Homo sapiens: one gene and its partners. The protein of the gene in region 2 interacts with the protein of the main gene of each other region in a biochemical or structural test. Each region holds a gene or a part of one and is shown on either strand. Other genes may lie near its edges.

Evidence for each region.
Region 1: the proteins of SNTG2 (region 2) and KCNJ18 interact in a test that uses a peptide from one of them, tested with the Homo sapiens proteins (one large-scale study listed by IntAct).
Region 3: the proteins of SNTG2 (region 2) and KCNV1 interact in a test that uses a peptide from one of them, tested with the Homo sapiens proteins (one large-scale study listed by IntAct).
Region 4: the proteins of SNTG2 (region 2) and JUP interact in a test that uses a peptide from one of them, tested with the Homo sapiens proteins (one large-scale study listed by IntAct).
Region 5: the proteins of SNTG2 (region 2) and SMCHD1 interact in a test that uses a peptide from one of them, tested with the Homo sapiens proteins (one large-scale study listed by IntAct).
Region 6: the proteins of SNTG2 (region 2) and ATP2A2 interact in a test that uses a peptide from one of them, tested with the Homo sapiens proteins (one large-scale study listed by IntAct).
Region 7: the proteins of SNTG2 (region 2) and PLEKHA1 interact in a test that uses a peptide from one of them, tested with the Homo sapiens proteins (one large-scale study listed by IntAct).

Annotation. Positions count from the first base shown.
Region 1 is NC_000017.11:21,695,523-21,699,022, reverse strand, and holds part of KCNJ18 (inward rectifier potassium channel 18), read right to left. Parts: intron 3,041-3,500; 5' UTR 2,919-3,040; intron 1-2,918. UniProt on the Homo sapiens protein: Inward rectifier potassium channels are characterized by a greater tendency to allow potassium to flow into the cell rather than out of it.
Region 2 is NC_000002.12:1,261,849-1,265,348, reverse strand, and holds part of SNTG2 (gamma-2-syntrophin), read right to left. Parts: intron 3,455-3,500; exon of another isoform or gene 3,328-3,454; intron 3,014-3,327; exon of another isoform or gene 2,931-3,013; intron 1-2,930. UniProt on the Homo sapiens protein: Adapter protein that binds to and probably organizes the subcellular localization of a variety of proteins. May link various receptors to the actin cytoskeleton and the dystrophin glycoprotein complex.
Region 3 is NC_000008.11:109,965,772-109,969,271, forward strand, and holds part of KCNV1 (potassium voltage-gated channel subfamily V member 1), read right to left. Parts: intron 2,829-3,500; coding exon 2,317-2,828; 3' UTR 1-2,316. UniProt on the Homo sapiens protein: Potassium channel subunit that does not form functional channels by itself. Modulates KCNB1 and KCNB2 channel activity by shifting the threshold for inactivation to more negative values and by slowing the rate of inactivation.
Region 4 is NC_000017.11:41,766,212-41,769,711, reverse strand, and holds part of JUP (junction plakoglobin), read left to right. Parts: intron 1-34; coding exon 35-294; intron 295-504; coding exon 505-743; intron 744-2,131; coding exon 2,132-2,333; intron 2,334-3,500. UniProt on the Homo sapiens protein: Common junctional plaque protein. The membrane-associated plaques are architectural elements in an important strategic position to influence the arrangement and function of both the cytoskeleton and the cells within the tissue.
Region 5 is NC_000018.10:2,697,226-2,700,725, forward strand, and holds part of SMCHD1 (structural maintenance of chromosomes flexible hinge domain-containing protein 1), read left to right. Parts: intron 1-605; coding exon 606-816; intron 817-3,313; coding exon 3,314-3,434; intron 3,435-3,500. UniProt on the Homo sapiens protein: Non-canonical member of the structural maintenance of chromosomes (SMC) protein family that plays a key role in epigenetic silencing by regulating chromatin architecture.
Region 6 is NC_000012.12:110,349,420-110,351,593, reverse strand, and holds the end of ATP2A2 (sarcoplasmic/endoplasmic reticulum calcium ATPase 2), read right to left. Parts: 3' UTR 1,303-2,174; coding exon of another isoform or gene 1,289-1,302; 3' UTR 501-1,288; downstream 1-500.
Region 7 is NC_000010.11:122,381,208-122,384,707, forward strand, and holds part of PLEKHA1 (pleckstrin homology domain-containing family A member 1), read left to right. Parts: intron 1-3,500. UniProt on the Homo sapiens protein: Binds specifically to phosphatidylinositol 3,4-diphosphate (PtdIns3,4P2), but not to other phosphoinositides. May recruit other proteins to the plasma membrane.

The DNA of each region.
Region 1 (3,500 bases), on a different chromosome or scaffold from region 2:
TCCACAGACACCGGGGTTGGCCTGCCAGGGTCCCAGGGTCGCCGGGAGGGGAATGGGAGAGGGGCGCTGGGGTACACTACCTGAGCTAGACAAGGCGGTTTCAACACCAAGGGGCAGTGAAGCAAACCCAGGAGGGAGAGAGCAGGCAGTGGGGAGAGAGCGCGGGCCCGGCAGACCCCCGGAGATCCCTGCTTTCCTGCTGGCCACAGTGCCTACAGACGCAGCCTCCCAGCGACCAGTCCACTTGAAGAACAGACCAGGGCCTGGGCTGGGAGCTTTTAGAGAGGATGCCAGACGGCAGCTGCCACGTGACCTAAGGGTGGGGTCCAGGAGTCACCGGGAGGTGCTTCCGGATGGAACTGGATGCCCCATGCCCACTGCCCTGAGGCCCTGGGCTTCTCAGGTTTCGGTGACATCTGGGAGGAGCCCAGGGCAAGGCCTGGACCCACATTCCCAGACACCAAGAAAGCACTGACTGGAAGGGAGAGTGCAGGCGCCTGCATCACCCAGGGTAAGACATAGGGACTCGGAGGGGGAGGCGCCAACAGCCCCCATCCCTCATGCAGAGACTGTTCAGCTAGCTAGGGCGCCTCATGAGGCACGAACACAGCACTCAGTATCTATCAAGTGCTTACTACCTGCCACGTGCTCTTCTAAGAGCTTTAATAAACTGATTCATTTAATCCCTTCCATCACACTGTGATTATTATCCCCATTTTCCAGATGAGCAGACGGAAGCCTAGGAAGATTGAGTCACTGTGATGGTTACACAGCCTTTCAGGAGTGAAGCTTCCAGGCTGGGCTGTAGGGGTGAAACCAGTGCCCCACAACACCAAGACCTGAGGCCTGACTGTGTGCGTGGCACTGCAATCCTTTTGGTCCCAAGCCCCTGCAATCCCAGGTGGTGATGAGATGTAGACTGCCACAAATCGGCACTCAAAAGAACAGGTTCAAGGGCCCTCACCAGCACTCCAACCCACAGCCACTCACCCTCATTCGGAGATGGGGCACTCTACCTCATGATCAAGCCTTACCATTGGAAGACCCCTTGGAGATCACTCAATGCAGGGAAGGCTGGCACACGCCTCCCCGCCCAAGGTGCCTGCTCCAGCCTCGCCCAGGCAAGCACCATTCCTCAGCCACAGAGCTTCATCCACTGCATCCAGAGCAGCTCAGAATCTTTCCTAATCCAGGCACCATTCATCAGATGCAGCACTGGGGCCTGGAAAGCCCAGCCCTTCCTTTGCAGATGGGGAGACTGAGGCTCTGAGCCAGTGGTGCCCTTGCTCCATCACATAGGGTGTGAGAGGCAGGGCTGGCTGCAGGGTTAGGGGCTCTCCCTCATGCCAGGCCCTGCCCTGGGTGTAGGACCACATCAAGGCTAGGCTGGGCACAGGCAGCCAGGAGGGGCACTGCTGGGGGACACTGCCAGAGCCAGGAGTGGGAGGCAAAGACGTGCTGGGCACCCTGGGGCAGTGAGGAAGCTTGGCTGGATGGGGGAGAACCCAGGCTGGTGTGGAGGGGAGAGGGAGAGTGGTGGGTGGCATTCCTATGTCTCATAATCTGGGAAGAAGATGATGACCTCTTACGCCCAATCCCCTTTCCAGGCCAAACTTCCCCACCAGAGACTCACCTGGCCTCTGTCCACCAAGCTAACCCATGGCCCTCAAACATTTGGGTCCAATGCCATGATGGCTTCCTATGCCAAATGCAGGCTAGGCCCGAGGAGAGAGGCAGCAGCAACACATCACTGTGTGCAGGGCATGGGGTGGTGGGTGCCCCACTGATATCCTAGGCCCTTACCACCTCAGGCCCACCTGTCTCAATTCCTACACGAACCAGTGTCTCTCTGCCCAAAAACTCTCTCTAGCCGTGGACATGCTCTGCCATTCAGAGGGCAGGCTGAGGAGCTGATGCTGCCAGGACAGCTTTCAGTCAGTGACTGATGGGAGCAGGTGGCTGGGCCCCAGCAAGCTGCCCCTGGGAGGGGCACTGCTTCCCTGGCCTCCCCAGCGGGAGTCAGCTCCAGTGCCCCAGCAGTAACTGTATCAACGACATGCCCTTTATCACTTCCTTCTCTTTCTCACCTCATTTCCTTATTTCCTGGGATCACCTCCCAGGAAACTACTTGCGCTGGAACCTTTGTCTCCTGGGCCTTCCTCATAGGGTCTCCAGTAGCCTCTCCACAGCAAAGGCTCTTGAACCCTGGCCTCCCCTCCTGGATGCTGTACACCAAGTCTCCTCCTGCTCTTCCTCCTCCACCTTCTGCCCCACAATACTGAGCTGCCTTCTCCTCCGCCTCCTCCACCTCCTCCTCCTCCCCTGGCCCCCTTTAGGATCCTCTAGCACTGGGCTTTTCCCATTCAGGCCAGAAGCTACTTCCCACCTTGTGTGAGAGTTGATCTTGCCCAGGCCCCATCTCTGACCAAGCTCAGAGGTCTAGAGAGGCTGATGCAGGTACTAGCAAAGAGGGGCACCCAGGAAATGCATCCCAGCCAGATGAAGGGTGAAGGACTAAGCAGCTGAATGGGATGGATGAGGAGATGGGTGGAAGAGTGATTGAATCAACATGTGGGTGGTCAGGCAGATGGGTGGATAAATCGGGTTGACAGATGGGTGGGTGGATGATAGGGGTGAGCAGATAGATGGACTGGCTAGGTGGGTGGAAGGATGGGTGGATGGATGGTTGAGCAGATGAATGGGTGGGGGAATGGGTGAGGAACGGATGGCATGGGCGAGGGGATGGATGGAGGGGTGGAGGCATGGGTGGGTGGATGGAAGGCTGAGCAGATAAATGGGTGGGGGAATGGGTGATGAAAGGATGGCATGGTGGGTGGAGGGGTGAAGGATGTACAGATGAGAGTCTGGTGGAAGGAATGCCTAGATGCACAAGAGCATGTCAATGACTTCACTCTTACCTCTTGAGTTCTGTCTTCTACGTAATGGTGCTGAGTAGGCACGGTACTGTCTTCAAGGCTGAATTAGTAGTGGCTGCCATTTCCCAGGCACCAGCTGGAAAGGATCCAGTCACTAGAACATCCTAAAGTTAAAAGAGTAAAGCCAAGTTACTGCAGGCGGTGCTGCTCTTCTCAGAGGGGCACAGAAGTAAGACATAACCACATGAACCCACATTTCTGCTCACTTCCCCAGGGCCCCACAGGAGATGGAAGGGCCTCTGGCCTGCACCTTTGATGCCCCACACCTTCACAGCATAGCAACCATCCAGAACCAGAGAAGAGCAGAACAAGATGGAGTGTCAGAGAAAAATGACCGCTGACAATTATTGAGTGCCTATTGCATGCCAGACACTATAGTAGGCATTTTACATACATCATCTCACATAATCCTCACAATTCCACAAGGTTGGAACTATTGTTGTTACTATTCCAGAGAAGTAGTTAATGTGGTAATTCTCCCACTGTCACAAAGGAATTCAGGCCCTCAGCCTGTACTCCCAGCCACCACCTGCAGAGCCTTCCCAACGCCAACCTTGGAGCCAG
Region 2 (3,500 bases):
TGTACGTGAATGTGTGTAGTGTGCATACGTTGCTAACCCTAAATGAGCCTTGAGTACAGAAACTGCACTTTAATTCTGGGGCCCTCTGGATCGTCTCCTTCAGCTGGGATACCTGGAACCTATAGGGTTACACGTCACAAACCAAGAACAACATGTTCATCATTGACCTTATGGTGCAGAAAGTATCTCTTTATCCACTGAACTTAAATGTCAAAACTGATAAAGAAAAACTTTTGGAAGATATTTATGTGGGAACGCACATCCCCCATTGAATGGCTCATTATAGTTGGGCCTTGAACAACCCAGGGGTTAGGGGCGCCAACTCTCACGCAGTTGAAGATTCATGCATAACTTTTGACTCCCCTAAAACTTAACTACTAGTAGTCTATTGTTGATCAGAAGCTTTACTAATAACATGAACAGTCAATTAACACATATTCTGTATGTTATACGTATAATATACTACATTCTTAGAATAGAATAAGTGAATTCAGGCACAGTGGCTTACACCTGTAATCACAACTAATTGGGAGGCTGAGGCAGGGGCATCACTGGAGCCCAGGAATTTAAGACCAGCCTGGATGACACAGCAAGATCCTATCTCTAAATAAATAAATGAATTAAGAAAGTAAGCTAGAGAATAGAGAATGTTATTGAGAAAATCACAGGGAAGAGAAGATATACTTAGAGCACTGCACTGTATTTATTGACACCATAAGTTTACATCATCTGTTTATGAGATGAATGGTCTGAAATGGTGGCAACCACGCTGCAGACCTCAATCTGTGGTGCACAGCAAACAATTCAGCTTTTTGGCAATGCTGTGATATTCCCGCTTCTTGGGGCACTTGCAACATCCCTTGTGGCACTTCGTGTGGGTCCCGGGGTGTTATTCAAGGTTTACGTTACTGGACTCAACACGAAGGAGGGAAGGTACACAAGAACTCTGAGAGATCACTCGTTACCATGCTCTGCAATTTACTGGAGAGAGAAATTGCTTCCACAGGGATGATTAAGACATTTTACTCAGAAACCCATGTCACACTATGTGCTCCAGTTAACCATGGGCAGGAATGATTGAACGCTGCATCTTTACCTTTGTCTATATTCCTCTCCACTGCAGATGGTGCCAAATTGATTGATTTATATTTTACAGGAGTAAATGATGAAATAGACTAGTATCTACATATATTGTATGAATTCACGACATCTCTAACTTTTTCTTAATGTTTTGATATTTTTAAGCTACACAGTTTGTCTTAAGAGGTTTTTACAATTGTTAAATTGTTTTCAAAAAATTTTCCAACATACTTATAGAAAACAATTGGCATACAAATGAGCCCACGCAGTTCAAGCCCATATTGTTCAAAGGTCAATTGTGTTTCTTTCCTATCACTTGCTATATTTGGGCAGCTGTGTATTATAATAGAAGAACACCAGGTTTTGGAGTCAGATAAAATTTGAGGCCTTTCTTTGCCCAGTATTAGCTGTTTGATCTTGAGCAATTCACTCTCTCAGAGCCTCCACTTTTGAGCTGTGAAATGGAATCGTGATAAAAATGTTGTCATAACTTCACATGACAGAGTGGCCAGCATGCAGGGCTCACATCCCGGATTCACATGAGTTCACTACGTGCTTTCATAAAGACACACGTCCTAAGGCAATGCTGAGCCAGGCCGTACATGTCGATTTGATGTCTGCTTTGCAGCTACCTGGCTTCCTGGCAGGGTCAGCTCTGGCAATATCCAGAACAGCATTTCCAGCCACCCCCACGACTGAAGAAAGCCCACCCCCCACCTAGGACTGCAAGACATCATCTTATTATGTTCCCTTTCCTGAAAAAAACAAAAAGGGTTGTATTCTAAAATTACATATTTTTTCTATTTATATTTATTATGAAACAATTATAGCAACAATAAAGGGAATTTAAAAGATAAACTTATTACTATGTTTTGTCATCTGATTTTTAAAAATATGTCAATAATTATTAATATAACCTTAATAATAGGACAATAATTAATATTCTCTTTCATGCAATGTGAATTTGTACATATAACTGTATAAATTTATAGTAGAATTACTTAAAATATGTTGTAAGATTTTAAAATATTTCTCAATGGTCTTTTGATTATTCTTCAAATATCATTAATTTAAGGAATATCCTTAAACATTCTCATACATATAGCTCTTTGATTCCTCTGAACTCAGTGTTGTAATGGACTCTTCTTTAGATTCAATTCTGAGGAGTGAGACTGCTTGATCAAGCAAGGGATTGTTTTTCCACTGTTTAGCCTCACAAAGAATGTGTTGTAAGTTCTACAAAAGGAAAATTAATTATTCATATATAGCTCATTTCCCCAGATAGTTCCTGTAGCTCCTTTAAAAACAATCACTCAGACCTTGTGGATCGCAGTGTGTTGATACGACTGGAAACCCTGAGCACTGAAGTTCAAGGTCAGCGGCTTGCCGTCAACAGTCAGTCAGCGGCTGGCTAGGCCATCGGGTTTCCTCGTCTGGACCGAGCCTTCGGGTTTCGTCGTCTGGACCGAGCCTTCCGGTTACCTCGTCTGCACGGAGCCTTCGGGTTGCCTCGTCTGCACGGAGCCTTCCGGTTGCCTCGTCTGGACGGAGCCTTCCGGTTGCCTCGTCTGGACGGAGCCTTCCGGTTGCCTCGTCTGGACTGAGCCTTCCGGTTACTACGTCTGGACTGAGCCTTTGGGTTTCCTCGTCTGGACTGAGCCTTTGGGTTTCCTCGTCTGGACTGAGACTTGACCCGGCTTCTTCCCACCTCTGGGACCTGGAACTCCCTATCTTTAGAGCATTTGCTTTAGAAAATGTATTATTGTATGTTCTTTCTCTGCCATTTGATACCTGAATCTTTCTAGAAGTCTCTTGCTGGCTGTACAACCCAGGACTGTCTTTCTCAAGGAGCTGGGAGCTGTCCCTTCAAAATGTGATCACTGGCAAGATGGCGTCATCTCCTGTCCCTGTGGAAGGATGGAGCCCAGCCTTGGTGGGTGCTTGGCTCTAAGCTGTGCAACCACCTCCTGTCATGAAGATGGGGGAAGCTCTCTGTTTCTTTGCAGGAGGCCAATTAACAGACAATGATGGCCCTAATCTCCTTCCCATCCCAACTTGTAGAAACCCTCTCATCCTTTGTTTCAGTGGAGTTGAATCTCTGAATCTCTCTCTCTCTCCTATCATAATAGACTTGAATAAGGTCTTCTTGCCTTCTTCGCCTTTAACTCTGGTGCAGTTTTGTCCTGACATGGCTTTAGGAAAATCATTTAGGAATTCTTCCTCTCAGTGTTGATATTATCCAAACAGGACTACCCCGAAGATCCGTGGAGAACACGTTCTAGAACTCTTAACGGCCACTCGCGACAGGCTCCCGGAACACCACTGCTTCTAGCACGTGGAATAGAGCGGGATTCGGGATGAGCTTTGCAGCCACGTGAGTCTGGGCCCCATCCCTGTCTCTGCTTGGCTTCTGGAAAGTC
Region 3 (3,500 bases), on a different chromosome or scaffold from region 2:
CCATGCACAAGAAGTTGGCTTGCCTGCCTAAAAAATAAATTTCTATGCAGAGCTTGTGTAGGAAGAATGAAATCTGCAATTTGACTTTTAGGAGTGTCGTTTTCCGGGTCAGGCAGATTGGTATTCAGCGCTGGCTCTGCCATCTATAGCCTGTGTGAATTTAGGCAAGTTTATACCTTTTAATGTTTCAGTTTCGCTGTCTTTTCCTCACACACCTTTGAACAGAATATTAACTACAAGAAAACAGGACCTAGTCTTGTTTAAGAAAGACTCCCTAGTCCCCAGAACACCAAAGATCCTTAATAAATATTTGTTGAGTTAATAAATATATAAAATATGTATTTTGAAGAGTATAAGAATAGTAATTATATAATAGGGATATTTTGAGGATAAAATGGCATAATACATGATGAATACAGAGCATAGTCCTGGATCAGAGTAACTATTCTTATTAGGGAAAGTTCTAGAAAAGCTGGAGTAAGTTTACCTTCTGTGTCTAACTTCTACTTTCCCTTCAGATTGTGGAAGGGATTTATACTATGACTAGTGGCCCTGTGCCACAATCTAGCACCCATGTATGTGTGTAAGAAGTAAAATATTTATCTTACTAATATTCATATCTCCTGAACCTTTTATAATATTTAGGAGAAGTGGAAACAAGTTAAATGAATTAAAGTACTTTAGCACACAATCTAAAACTCATGCCATCAGTGAAAATGTTTTCAGAGCTTAACCATGCATACCAGAAAACAGGAGGTAGTACATGCGATATTTCATTGATTTTAAGGTGCTTATTTTAAATTTTTACATATCTGAAATCCGGATGCATTTTACAGTTAATGGCATCTTACAATTGACTGGCATCTTTCTTTCTTGGTAGTGCATAGCATAATATGATGTCTTAAATAGAGTTTATGAAATACCTTATAGCTATATATTAAAGCAGTCCTCAATGTTTATTTCTTATCACCATTCACCCCTGGCAAAGAGCCTTCTAGGCTTTTTTCCCTAACATCTCACCCCCATGAAATGTTAATACCACAGATATACTCAATATGCTTATCTGTGTTTTGTAAATGAAGTGATAAGATTTTTTTTTCCTCAAGAACCAATTTTCTTCCCCTTGGGGGCTCTATTATATTGGAAATGTAGGTATTAAAGTGATGCATTCCTTGTTATTCTTAGGTTGTAGAATCTCATTTACTAAAATAATGGGAATCATGAGCTAGTTCTTAGCTTTAGAGGTTTTGGCTTTAATTATATAATACAATGTCTAGGAATTGTGTTGTTATGATGAATGTCAAAATGCCTGCAAAGTTTGAACATTTGCTATTTACCCCAACAATCAGAAAGCTGTCCATAGTATTTTTTTGTTAACAAGTAAAAGATCTTCAAGTTCATCCAGTGATGTCATTTAACATATATTTCCCATTTTATGAAATAAGATTATTTAGTAATTCCAGTGTAGAAATTTAGGATGTTCACTACCTCACTTTTACATATTCATTATTTTAAAGCCATAATGTGAACAATACATCCATAAAGAGACATTTAAAGACCATCTGATATTCATGAAATACTAAGAAATATGCTGTTTTATGCTCCACATACTACACTCAGTTGGGAGAATGAAGATGTGCAATTGTTGAAGTCTTTGTGTAGACTCATGTACTGCAATCTAAGCAGTTTTGGGATTCCCACCTCTTATAGTAATAATGGGATACAGAGATCAGTTCATTTGTGACCAGTGGTTTACATGAAAAAGAAGATAGGGATATAATCTCTGCCCATCAAATATGGGTTTTCTCTTGTAAAGCTAAGTATTATATTCAATAGCTTTAACTGATAGAGAACGGAGTAATTTATGTACTTGGATAATATCTTTAAATAGCAAAGTTGTTCAATATGTTCTTAAATATTTACTTATCTTTCTCTGGGCTATGCAGTTTACCTTCCATTTTTAAAAAATTAGTGGTGCAAAAAACTTCTAATGTTAGTGATACATAAAATCTTTAACTTTTTTGTATGTATTGCAATAACATTATTTTATATTTGACAATTCAAACATGTTTATATTGGCCCAGTTGTATTTGGTTGTGTTAATTGGCTATTTTGGACACTCAAATGTGTCAGAACACTGTGCAGTTGTTATAGGTGATGTGAAATATTCTAGTAGATGAAGCAATATATCAGCAAAAATTAATTAAGATGAGCAGTACTCTGAAGAGACTCATCATCAGAATACAGAAATCCACATCACTGCTTTATCATTTTAGTTAATTGTACATAGCTTTTGTAAATAAATTGAAAATTAATTCAAAACCAGAAATCATCTCCCCCGCTGCTCCTAGTACTTGCTCTTTCTCTGCCTTTCAGTCGCAGCATCTCCATGATACTCCGGGCATAGACATCTCTCAAGTTAACACTGATATATGAGTCAGTGGCTATATTCTTGGTAAGCTTCTTTAGGGCTTCACGCTGTCTAACAGCTGCTTCCTTGAGTTTCAAGGTGAAGTAGCAAGCAGAGAAGCGATCGTTAATAATAGCAATAGGCAAGGCCAAGACAAGAATTCCCGATAATATACACATGAAGGCCACGATTTTGCCTGTGGTGGTGTCTGGTCTAATGTCCCCATATCCCACAGTAGTCATAGAGGTGGTGGCCCACCACCATGCACAAGGGACACTTGTGAAGGTTGTGTCAGGAATGCTTTGCTCAGCAAAGTATTCTACAGTTGAAAATATAGAGATTCCCACGGATAGAAATAGGAGCAGTAGGCCGACTTCTTCGTAACACTGGGTGATTGTCATCCCAAGGGAGCGTAATCCTGCAACAGAACAAATGCTGTCAGTCATTGGCATCCCTCTTCTCTCTCTTCCTTCCCTCCCCTCCCCTCTCCCTCCTTGCTCTGCCACCCACAAACTGCACTGCACACTTAAATGTCCCCAGCACTGGGCAATGTTCTGGGGATACAAAGTTGATTAAATCATAATCCTTGTGCCAGGAAGTTCACAGTCTAGTTGATGGGGCCAGGTTGAGAAGGCTAGAGAGAAATATAATTAGATTCATTAATTCACCTATAGAATTATTGAACTTCTACTATTAAAAAGAAGGCGAGAGGTAAGACTGAAGGCAGGCAGGGGTGGTATGATAGGAGTTTTGTACTTTAGTCTGTACAATAAGAGGCCTTTGCGGTGTTGCATGTGGAGGGCATATTTGGTCACACCTGCATTTCAATGCATCATTTTAGCACTTGTTTCAAATGCCAGTTTTATGTTGTCTTGTATTTTATGTGTCTGTTTTTCTCACCTTCCTTGTAAAGTTTAAGACAATCAGGAACCTGATTACAGGAAAGCCAGAAAAAGTAAACAATGGGCACCATAGCAACAAAGTGAAGCAGCAGAAGCAAGTTAGGCATTGGTGATAAAATTGACATGAGAACATCACATGTATATTCAGGGGACATTCTCAGCAGTATGTCAGGAGGAGGTCTGAACTC
Region 4 (3,500 bases), on a different chromosome or scaffold from region 2:
GCCTGCACTCAGTCCCTGTCCCCATGGCCCCCAGGTGATCTGGAGTACCAGATGTCCACAACAGCCAGGGCCAAACGGGTGCGGGAGGCCATGTGCCCTGGTGTGTCAGGCGAGGACAGCTCGCTTCTGCTGGCCACCCAGGTGGAGGGGCAGGCCACCAACCTGCAGCGACTGGCCGAGCCGTCCCAGCTGCTCAAGTCGGCCATTGTGCATCTCATCAACTACCAGGACGATGCCGAGCTGGCCACTCGCGCCCTGCCCGAGCTCACCAAACTGCTCAACGACGAGGACCCGGTCTGTGAGGGTCCCTGCTAGGGTGGGGGCTGGGCAGGGAGGGGAGAGAGCAGATGTCCTCAGGGGAGGGACATTGTAGGGGTGGAGGGAGGTTATGACCCAGACTCTCCCGTGTGTGATGAGTCTGACTGGGGCCCTCCTCAGCTCTGTGGAAGGGTATCCCGGCCTCTCCTTAGTGCTCACGTCCCCGCCCCTGCCTTTGCCCTCCAGGTGGTGGTGACCAAGGCGGCCATGATTGTGAACCAGCTGTCGAAGAAGGAGGCGTCGCGGCGGGCCCTGATGGGCTCGCCCCAGCTGGTGGCCGCTGTCGTGCGTACCATGCAGAATACCAGCGACCTGGACACAGCCCGCTGCACCACCAGCATCCTGCACAACCTCTCCCACCACCGGGAGGGGCTGCTCGCCATCTTCAAGTCGGGTGGCATCCCTGCTCTGGTCCGCATGCTCAGGTACCCAACCCTGCTCACTGCATGAGCCCAGGACCCCCTCTCACTTGGGCCTCTCCCCTCCCTTCCCTGAGCTTCCATAAATATCCAGTGAGCACCTACTATGTGCCAGGCAGAAGCACACCCCATCCGGGTGCTCGGTGGCTCACAGCCCAGCAGGGAACACAGGCATGTAAACAGCAGGTTAATGATCAGGATACGACACAGGCTATGGCAGAAGAGCATTGAGATTGCTCAAAGGTGGAATCGCTTAATGGCAGGGGATTGACAGATGAGTGGAGTTTGGCTAGTGCAGAGGAAGGGAAGAGTGTCCCAGGCAGAGGGAACAGCAAATGCAAAGTCCCTTGCAAACTTTCTGTTTCCTGGCCCCCTACAAAATGTGGATTGGCCTCATTTCTTTTTTTTTTTTTGAGATGAGGCCTTGCTCTGTCACCCAAGCTGGAGTGCAGTGGCGTGATCTCAGCTCACTGCAGCCTCCACCTCCTGGGTTCGAATGATTCTCCTGCCTCAGTCTCCTGAGTAGCTGGGATTACAAGCATCTGCCACCATACCTAGCTATTTTTTTTTGTTTTGAGATGGAGTTTTCCTCCTGTTGCCCAGGCTGGAGTGCAATGGCACAGTCTCGGCTTACTGCAACCTCTGCCTCCCGGGTTCAAGAGATTCTCCTGCCTCAGCCTCCCAAGTAGCAGGGATTACAGGCACCCACGACCATGCCTGGCTAATTTTTGTATTTTTAGTAAAAATGGGGTTTCACCATGTTGGCCAGGCTAGTCTTGAACTCCTGACCTCAGGTGATCTGCCCCCCTTGGCCTCCCAAAGTGCTGGGATTATAGGCGTCTGCCACCATGCCCAGCTCAATTTTGTATTTTTAGTAGAGACGGGGTTTCACCACGTTGGCCAGGCTGGTTTCGAACTCCTAACCTCAGGGTGATCCACCTGCCTCAGCCTCCCCAAGCGCTGAGTTTACAGACGTGAGCCACTGCTCCTGGCCTTATTTCTCATTCCCATACCAGGCTGGAAGCTCCCTGAAGGGGAGACACTGATTTCACTCCCCTCTGAACGCCTTGCAAGGCCTCTCTAATATGTGGCCTTCCACATGGTGGTTACTTAGTAGGGATCAGTGTCTAGGGGACCTACTGTGCGCTCAGCACAGGGCTGGGGACTCAGAAGCAGGAGGAGTCATTGTCCCAGTTGGGAGAAGAGAGGTGCTGTTTGCTTCATGCTTAAGAGCAGGGCAGGCTCAAGGAGTGATGAGATTTTAGCAAAGGGATATTTCCAGAGGGGCGTCAGTAGCGGGGAGGCTTCCTGGGGGAGGTGGGAACCCATGCCAGGCTCACATGTATGCCAGGCCTCTGGGACCTCAGCGTACTAACCCCTGCCCACCCCCCCAGCTCCCCTGTGGAGTCGGTCCTGTTCTATGCCATCACCACGCTGCACAACCTGCTCCTGTACCAGGAGGGCGCCAAGATGGCCGTGCGCCTGGCCGACGGGCTGCAAAAGATGGTGCCCCTGCTCAACAAGAACAACCCCAAGTTCCTGGCCATCACCACCGACTGCCTGCAGCTCCTGGCCTACGGCAACCAGGAGAGCAAGGTGGGCCCTCCCCAACTCTCCCGAGGCCTGAAGCCCACCCTTGCGCCATCTTCTATCCTGCACAGCCTTGGGCCGCTGCCCCCTTACTCCTTTTAGATGAGATATAGGTGCAGATATACATGCTTCATCATGCGACTGAATTGCCCAGAATTATTATTTTGAGGATAAGGGAAAAAAAAAATCACTCATCCTCATATAGCCACTATTGTCATTTCGATGTGCTTCCTTAAGAGCTGTTCTGTGGGCAGATTACAGATGTGTACACATCCTTGTCATCATAACAATCTGCAATATTGCATCTGTTTTCTGCCTGATTTTTTTTTTTTTTTTTTGAGACAGGGTCTCACTCTGTCACACAGGCTAGAGTGCAGTGGTGTAATCAGGGCTCACTGCAGCCTTGACTTCCTGGGCTCAGATGATCCTCCTACCTCAGCCTCCAGAGTAGCTGGGACTTCAGGCGTGTGCTACCACGCCCGACTAATTTTTTTTTTCCTTTTCTTTTCTTTCTTTTTTTTTTTTTGTTTGAGATGGAGTCTCACTTTGTCGCCCAGGCAGGAGTGCAATGGCACGATCTCGGCTCACTGCAACCTTCGCCTCCCGGGTTCAAGCGATTCTCCTGCTTCAGCCTCCCAAGTAGCTAGGATTACAGGTGCCCGCCACCACACCCAGCTAATTTTTGTATTTTTAGTAGAGACAAGGTTTCACCACATTGGCCAGGCTGGTCTCGAACTCTTGACCTTAGGTTGTCCATCTGCCTCGGCCTCATAAAATGCTGGGATTACAGGCATGAGACACCGTGCCCCACCCCCAACTAATTTTTTATAGAGATGGGATTTCTCCATGTTGCCCAGGCTGGTCTCAAACTCCTGGGCTCAAGTGATCTGCCTGCCTTGGCCTCCCAAAGTATCAGGATTACAGGTGTGAGCCACTGTGCCTGGCCTGTATGATGTTTAAAAAAAATTTTTTTTTGCTATATTGTCCTCAAAACCACCCTCTAATAATGACAGATTGCCTTTCCTTTCCCCTTTCCCCCTCCCCTTTCCTTTTTCCTTTTCCTTTTCCTTTTCCTTTCCCTCTCTTCCTCTCTTTCTTCCTTCCTTCCCATTCTTTCCTTTTCTTTCTTTTTTGAGACAGGGTCTCACTGTGTTACCCAGGCTAGAGTGCAGT
Region 5 (3,500 bases), on a different chromosome or scaffold from region 2:
CTCTCCTTGTTTTTTACCAAACTACTTTCATTGTTTGATATCCAACTAAAGAGATTATTCCTAGATGTATTTTTCTCAAACCTTTATTTACTGTAGGCTTGGTTTATCTTTTTTTGTCTCTCTTCTGTGGAGCTATGCATTGTTACTGAACATCAATCATCTCTTGAAGCATGGAGGAAAAGGGAGATAATGTAGCTTTCCTTTTGTTTGTAGAAGTTATATCGTGGTGACAAGGTTTAGCAGCACAGAGCATTTGAGTATTGGATTCTCAATCCTCTAACCCACACGTTAGAATTTCACATACGATGTTGTCCCACTTCCTACCTCTAGCAAGAAACCTCGAATTAAATGTACTCATGACTTTTCTGTCCTTCAGCTCTGATTTGCTGTTTCTTTGCTTACTTTATATTTTTTAGTAGTATGTTCCTTATTGAGATGCTACTTAAAGCTGTTTAACTCATATGTAAATATATGTATTTCATTAAGCCAGATTGTTACTTGTACAAATAAACATAATTTTTACTTATTCTGTTGTTGAATCATAGCTGAGAACAAAAGTAAAGTTACCATAGAATTTAATTATTTTTGTTTCCTTTTTATTTTAGATTTCTATGTTTGAAAAAGGGAAGGTACCTAAGATTGTCAACCTAAGGGAAATACAAGACGACATGCAGACGTTGTATGTAAACACAGCAGCTGATAGTTTTGAATTCAAAGCTCATGTTGAAGGAGATGGTGTAGTGGAAGGGATTATCCGTTATCATCCATTCTTATATGATAGAGAAACTTACCCTGATGATCCATGCTTTCCATCAAGTATGTTAATCTGTTATCTTAGTTATAAAATATGAAGTTGTAATTTAGGACAGTGATTTGTTTTTCTAAATGATTATCGGTTGGGTTATTCAGGTTAGATAAATATTAAATTTTTTCTTATGCAAGTCTTAGATTGTTAGGTATTTGTAATTTTTGTAATTCCTGATTTTTGTGTACATTCATTTCTAGATGAATAAATCTTTAATGAACTCTTCTTTTAGTTCTGTTACGAAACCAAACTTTTAGATATGTATGCGTATTAATCCTTTATATGTTCCCTTGTCTTCTCTTTATCCTTGTTGCAGTTTTACACTTTATGCAGTCATATTTACTAACTTTTTCTTTATGCTTTCTGATTTTGTCTTACTGTAGAAAGGCTTTTTACATCTCAAAATTATATAAATCTGTAGCTTTTTTGTTTTTGTTGTCATTTTATGGTCAATGCATCTGTGTTTTTCTTTTTTGTATGTAGAGCAAGGTGGGGTTTTATTTATTTATTTAAATTTTTGAGTGATGGGGTCTTGCCGTGTTGCCCAGGCTGGTCTTAAGATCCTGGCCTGAAACAATCCTCCTGCCTTGGCCTCCCAAAGTACTAGGATTACAGGTGTGAGCCACCACACCTGGCCCCCACCTTTTTTTCCCCCCCCAGTAGAGAGATAGGGATTTAACAATTATTTTCTATGTGGTATTCATATTCAGTTTCTTAGCACCAGTTATTGAATGTTATAATTTACCCAAGAGTTAGAACTTGTATAATACAAAGTTCCCATAAGTACATAGGTCTAGATTCTTTACTATAAAGTACTATTTTATTTTTTTTTAATATGAGTAATGATACTGTCTTGTAGCTTTATCTTGTAATTTGGTATCTTTGGGAAAAAACATTTTCACTATTGTTCCTTTTTGAGAATACTTTTGCTCTTCTAGATAATTTTGGAATCAGCTTTGTACATTCACTTGAAGTAATTCTAGTGAGATTATTGGGATTGCATTGAATTTATAGGTTAACAATATTAAACTTTTTCATTCAGAATACTTCCTTAGTACATTCTTGGTTTTCTAGGGCCTGCAACCAGAGATCCTGATTCGAATCCCATCTTTGCCACTTTCTGTTGGACAAACTACTCCCTGCCTTAGTTTCCTTACCTGGGAAATGGGTAGTTCACACCTCATAGGGGTGTTGTGAAGATCAAATTTAAAAACTGGGGCAACTTCTCAGAATAGTGCTCAACACTATTTATTAAGTGCTCCTGCCCAGTACATATTGTTACTCAGTGGCTCCACTGGCCTTTTTGGTTTTGTTTTTTATTTTTTGGAGACAAAAGTCTTGCGTTGCCACACACGCTGGAGTGCAGTGACACAATGTAGGCTCACTGCAGTCTCTGCCTCCCAGGTTCAAGCAATTCTCATGGATCAGCCTCCTGAGTAACTGGGACTACAGGTGCCCACCACCATGCCAGGCTAATTTTTTGTATTTTATTAGAGACAAGGTTTTGTCATGTTGCCAAGGGTAGTCTCAAACTTCTGAGCTCAGGTAATCCTCCCACCTCAGCTTCCCAAAGTGCTAGGATTACAGGCGTAAGCCCCTGTGCCTGGCCATCTCTGACCTCTTAAATTTGCTGTTTCCAATTTTTGTGTGCTAATAGACAAAAAGATATAATTTTTTTCAAATGCTGCCTTAAAAAGAAGAGCAAGTAAGTTGAGTGATCAATCAGAGGGATTCTCCTCTAAGAGCAAAGTGATTTTGTTTGATTGAAAGCAGCTTTTATATAAGGGACTTCTTGTGAGGGCTTTTAGGGAGAAGGTTTTGTTTTAGGTGGGTAAACTAATTCCAGGGTAGCTGAGGTGTTAATATGTCAGGATCACATTGTTTAATCCTAATTTATCTGGATACACGAGAGTGTGTTGCTAATAAACATAAGATTATAGACAATTGTGCAAATTAATGCTCTTGATGCATAGTAACATGTCTTACAGTTCTGTGTACATTTTTCATGCTTACTTGAATCTGAAAATAATTTCTAAAAAGTAAACTTAATTTTAGCATCATTCACTAATTTGTTCAAACTAGGTAAACTCGCTGCTATTAGATGTCATAGATTTCTCAGATGACTTTCATGTGAACATACTAGTTCTGATAAAATTGTGAAACTGTTTTAGATACGGGATTTAAGCTCCTATATTTGTAGGAAGGAGGGATTTTGTTATAGGGGATAATCTTTTTGGATGTAAGACTCTTTTAGCCTCATGAATAGGTTTTAAAGATGACAGGCCCAGCAGCTAGTACATTGGTTCATATATAAGTAATTATTGACTTCTAAATGACAGACAGCATTCGTAATGTGGAACCACTTTGTAAACCTACCTTTTTGTGGGCAAACAGTATAAAACTACCTTTAGGTTTTATAGAATGCAATTTGAAACATTTATGTGTTTGTTTCATTATTTCTCACATTTTAGCAATAAACATTTTGTTCCATTTGCCCTTTTGATCTAGAATTAAAAGATGAAGATGATGAAGATGATTGTTTCATACTTGAGAAAGCAGCTAGAGGGAAAAGGCCTATTTTTGAATGTTTTTGGAATGGACGATTAATACCATATACATCAGTTGAAGAGTAAGTTTGATTTTTGCTGAAATTATGTTTTTACAACTTAATTCTTTTACTAACTAACATTTTGTT
Region 6 (2,174 bases), on a different chromosome or scaffold from region 2:
TGCCAAATAAGCACTAAAGTAACCAGCAAATGAATTCCAACAGCTGCTTCAGTTCTGTTCACCTCTCCATCCCATACCTATCAACAACGGGGAATGTGGAAGTTTTGGATCTGAACAGCCTAAGAAACATCTCTCCATTGCTAGTCTCCAGATCTTTCCAGGCTGCTAACAATGGAGAGCGCGGAGTCTTGGCTTTCTTCACCACACTGACGAGTGAGGCCTTGTGTGTTTAAGACCCCACTGGTAACACACACTCAGCTTCCCCCATCCTTAAAGGGTAGGGAGCCAGGGTGGGCTTCACATGGGCGGACCTGCTGCCAGTCAGCCTGTCTACTGTGAAGTCGAGTCCAAGAGGTTCCTGTCCCCTCTAGTCACATGGCCACCCTGCCCAGACTGAGCCTCCCCTGCTTCCCTGTAGAGGGGCAGGCCCGGGTGCGGAGTGGAGGCCCTTGGTGCCCATCAGTCCCCCTCCCACAGAACAGTCACCACCACACTGAGAATTTATCATAGAATAGATTTATTTACCTGAAACCATGTCTGTGCGACGCTCATTGTTACCAGCACAGAAAGAAACAAACTGATCTCTATTTACAGTCTAAAGTCAAACATGCGCAGTGATAAATTGACATTTAGCATTTTATTAAGATAAATGCATCACAATATTTGTATTGCACCAACATCTGTCTACTGCTTCTGATTTCATTAAATAAGTTACATTTAATACAGTGCGAAATAGCTGTCTGCACACTCAGAAAATAACTGAAAATGAACTGGAGGCCTACATTTTAACCATTCAACACCTGTAGTGTTTTTAATGAATTTATAAATAAGCAAACTGTACAGGGCCAATTAAAAAGTAGCATGTTCCAATGTCACTGGAGAGGGATCTGGCTACTTACAACCGAAGGCATGCATTACAATTGAATACTGTACATTTATATAAGCTATGACATTTTGCAGAGAAATGTGGCGACTTGGCTGACGGCTTCCAAGTTCTTAGATAAGGTTACAGAGCCTCATTCCTCTTGCAGCAAAGAAACCAAACTTCTCTGGAGAGGCTTTCTGATTAAGCTAAATTGTACATCTGTAATCAGTATTTTGATTTAAAAGCTAACAACCCCATTGGTAATACACATTTCCTCCACATAACACAAAGTGAGTTGGGAAGTTTTTTACTTTTCTTTTTCCCCAACATCAGTCATGCACAGGGTTGGTAGATGTGTTGCTAAAAACGCACATGCACGCAACCGAACACCCTTACATTTCTGCAAAATGGTTTAGGAAGCGGTTACTCCAGTATTGCTGAAAAGGAAAGAGAGAGGAAATCAGCTTCATGAAATACAGAGAGGAAACGTTAGAATACCTATTTAAATAGATGAAGATCAACAGCGACAGATGAAAAGGAACATTCAGCTTGATCTTTTCAAGGTTTCAAGACCAGCATTTCTGATTTACTGTCCCTGAGGTGCCGCCCACACAGGGTAGCATCTAGAAGCACTGGCTCAGTGACACAGACTCCTCGTGTCGTCTGGCTACAGAATAAAGGCTCTGGAGGAAAACCCCATGAGGCAGACACAATCGTTGCAGCTGTGAAAGCAGCGAGACAGGCAAGAGGACAAGGTCTTGGTTAGTGGTGCAGAGGGTGAGGTTGATGGAGAAGTGAGCAGCCAGTAGCAGCACAGCCTTCCTGTCCCTGCCCTGTGGGCACCCGGCTTCTGGCTGCTCGCCTGCCTTGCCTAGCCCTGGAGAGGAAACTCCTCCGCATCATTCTCCTCAGTAAAGGAGGGTGAAGCCTACCCTTCTTGCTAACTGCAGCGGGTGTTTGGACAATTTGGTGGTTACAGTCACAGGGCAACTGCTGGCTCTGCTCACAGGCACTGCAGACGTGGTATGCTCTGGCCCTGGACAGTGGCTAGATGCTTGGTAGACACTGAGCTAATCTTGTGGTCTCAGGTCTTAGGTCTGCCCACCTCAGTCAGGGCTGAAGCTCCAGTCCGAGGGGATGTGGGAGCAGCTGTTGTGAGGGAAGTCGGCCAGATGCCCTGCTTGCCTGGGAGCTCACTGAGCTCAAGGGACAGCTTCCTCCAGAATGGATCATCTGCATTCTGCAGAGTGGTGTCCCAGTTAGGGTATGTATGATTGTTGGTCTTCTGGGCAAAGCTCAGAGAGGCCAA
Region 7 (3,500 bases), on a different chromosome or scaffold from region 2:
CCAGGTGGGAGGTCATGGTCACTTGGACCAGAGAGGTAGCAAGTGGTGAGAAGTAGGATTCTGGTTATAATTTGAAGATGGAGATAACAGGATTTGCTGATGGATTGGACATGGGGTAGGATATGGTTTGGATTTGTGTCCCCACCCAAATCTCATGTCGAATTGTAATCCCCAGTGTTGGAGGAGGCGCCTGTTGGGAGGCGGTTGGTTCATGGGACAGACATCCCTACTTTCTGTTCTCATGATAGTGAGTGAGTTCTCCTGAGATCTGGTTGTTTAAAAGTGTGTACCTCTCTCTTCTCTCTTTCTTCCTCCTGCTCCTGCGATGTAAGAGGTAACTCCTCCCTCTTTGCCTTCCACCATGATTGTAAGTTTCTTGAGGCGTCCCCAGTCATGCCTCCTGTACAGACTGTGGAACTGTGAGCTAATTAAACCTCTTTTCTTTGTAAATTACCCAGCCTCAGGTAGTTCTTTATAGCAATGCAAGAACGGACTACCACAGGGTGAGAAAAACTTAAGTATGACTTCAAGATACTTTTCCTGAACAACTGGAAGAAGGGAGTGGCCCTTTACTGAGCTAGGGAAGGCTGGATCAGGATTCTGAGGGGAATATCTGGAGCTCAGTTTGTTAAGTTTGAGATAGCTTGTTAGATAAGTGGAACCGTAGAATAGGCAGTTGTATACATGGGTCTGGAGGTCAACAGTGTTCAAGGCTGGAGATAACAGTCTGGAAGTCATCAATATTTAGGCCTGTGAGAATGAGTAACCTCACCAAGACACTGAGTATATATAGGAAAGAGATCCACAGACCACCCTCTGGGATACTCCAACAATAGAGGTCTGGGAGATGAAATATTCCTTAGGGTTTCTTATGTACTCTAGAATGAAAGACAATTGTAATCGTTTCTTTTTTTAGAAAAAGCTTTATTGAGATAATTCACACTATATAAATCACTTATTTAAAATGTATGATTTAGTGCATTCACAGTTACGTGGACAACACCACAATCAATTTTAGAATATTAGTATCATCCCCAAAGAAACCCTGTACCCTCCTATCCTTAGACAACAACTCATTTCCCCTGTACCTAGGCAACTAGTAATCTACCTTCTAGCTTTATAGATTTGCCCATTCTGCATATTTCATGTCAGTGGAATCATACTATACTTGGTTTGTTTAGAGAGAAGTGGTATCCATTAGTACCTAGCTTCTAGATTCAATAGATACCAAGTTACTTGGTAAAGGTGGGGGCTATAAGATCTCTCCAATGTAAAGATACATTTCCTGTTTGCAATTAGTAACAAAACTGTGGGGTGATATTTTGAGACTATGAATATTCTGTTTCCTAACAGCATTTCATCTAGTGGTTTTAGTGTTCATTGAAGATGCTTGTGTAAATCAGTGAGACATTGGGATTACAAAGTGGTGATTTTCTATTACTGTCATATCTTCAGAAATGATGTAGTTCATATTATTTCTAATTCAGATGTATTGTACACAGTTTGTTCTTTTGTTTTTTGTTTGTACCTCTTTTCTCTCACTGTGAAAGTCTTGGTTCCTAATAACAAATAAATGTTTTCTTTTATTTTAAATATAATCATATCAACATATTTACATTATCCAATAATGTACATTATAATGGTCTGGAAGTCTTGTTATACCTAAAATGTTTCACATTACAGTACCAAGTAGGAATGCTGGATCATAGGATAAAAGCATATATGATTTTGTTAAATAGTACCAGATTCACCCAGTAGGGTTTTACCATTTTGCCTTCTTGCCAGCAATGTAAGAGTTTCTGTTTTCTTACAGCCTCATCAGTATAGTGTGTTGTCAAACTTTTGAATTTTTGCCAGTCTAATAGATGAGAAATGGTATATCTGTATAGTATAGATTTAAAAAACTTTTCTATTATGGAGATTTGTGAACATCCACAAAAATAGAATAGTGTAACCAATCCCATGAACACCATCATTTAGCCCCAGCAACTACCAACCCTGCCACCAGTGCCTCCGTTTATTCCCTTCTCTAAAAATTATTTTGAAACAAATCCCAGATAACATTTTTTTCTTTTCTTTCTTGCTTTTTTCTTTTCTTTCTTTCTGTTTTTTTTTTTTCTTTTTTTTTTTTAGAATGGGTCTTGCTCTATTGCCCAGGCTGGAGTACAGTGGCACAATCATAGCTTACTGCAGACTCAATCTCCTGGGCTGAAGCGATTATCCCACCTCAGCTTCCCAAGTAGCTGGGACTACAGGCACACACCACCATGCCTGGCTAATTTTTTTTTTTTTTTTTGGCAGAGATAATGTCTTGTCATTTTGTAGGCTTGAATTGCTGAGCTCACACAATCCTCCTGCCTCAGCCTCCCAAAGTGCTGGGATTACAATTGTGAGCCATCATGCCTGGCCCCAGATAAATAACATTTATTTTATATCAGTAAATATCTCTAAATGAAAAGGACTCCTCCTTTTTTTGGTAACAATCACAATGCCGTTATCACACCAAAAATAATGTGTCTGTTTTCTTAATATCATCAGACAATATTCAAATTTCCGATTTTAAGTATGTCAGTGTTTTTTTGTTTGTTTTTGTTTTTATTTTTAAAGAAACAGGATTTAAATAAAATCCACATGTCGTGATTGGTCCAGATATCTAAAGTCTTTTTTAATTCATAGGTTTCTCCTCTAGTTCCTTTTCTTCTCCTGCTTTTGAATTTAATTTTAAAGAAACCAGTTATCTTTCCTGAGCCATTTCTTACTGTATAGATTTTGATATTTGAATCCCTGTGGTAGTCTCTCGTGTTGTTCTGTTCTTGGGATGTCATTGGCAATGGCTACATCTCGGTATGGTTTTTTTGTATTTGTCCTGTTATGAGTGATACTGAATATCTCATCATATATTTAAAGGCCATTTTTATATCTCTCTTGGTACAATGTTCATGTCTTTTACTCATTTTTCTATTGAACGTTTGATATATTTCCCTTAACATTTTTTGCAAGCTCTTTAAATGCTAGGGAGATTAGCCCTTTGTTTATGATATAAGTTGCAAATATTTTCTACTGGCTTTGACTTTGCTTATCAGGTTTTTGCCATGGAAAGCTTTTAAAAAACTTTATTTGGCTGGGCGCGGTGGCTCACGCCTGTAATCCCAGCACTTTGGGAGGCCGAGATGGGCGGATCACGTGGTCAGGAGATTGAGACCATCCTGGCTAACACGGTGAAACCCCGTCTCTACTAAAAATACAAAAAATTAGCCGGGTGAGGTGGTGGGCGCCTGTAGTCCCAGCTGCTCGGGAGGCTGAGGCAGGAGAATGGTGTGAACCCCAGGGGGCAGAGCCTGCAGTGCGCCGAGATCGTGCCACTGCACTCCAGCCTGGGTGACAGAGCGAGACTCTGTCTCAAAAAAAAAAAAAAAAAAATGACTTGTAGTCATTTATAAATGAGTTTTTAAAATTGTTACTGCTCCAGGTGTGGTGGCTCACACCTGTAATCCCAGCAC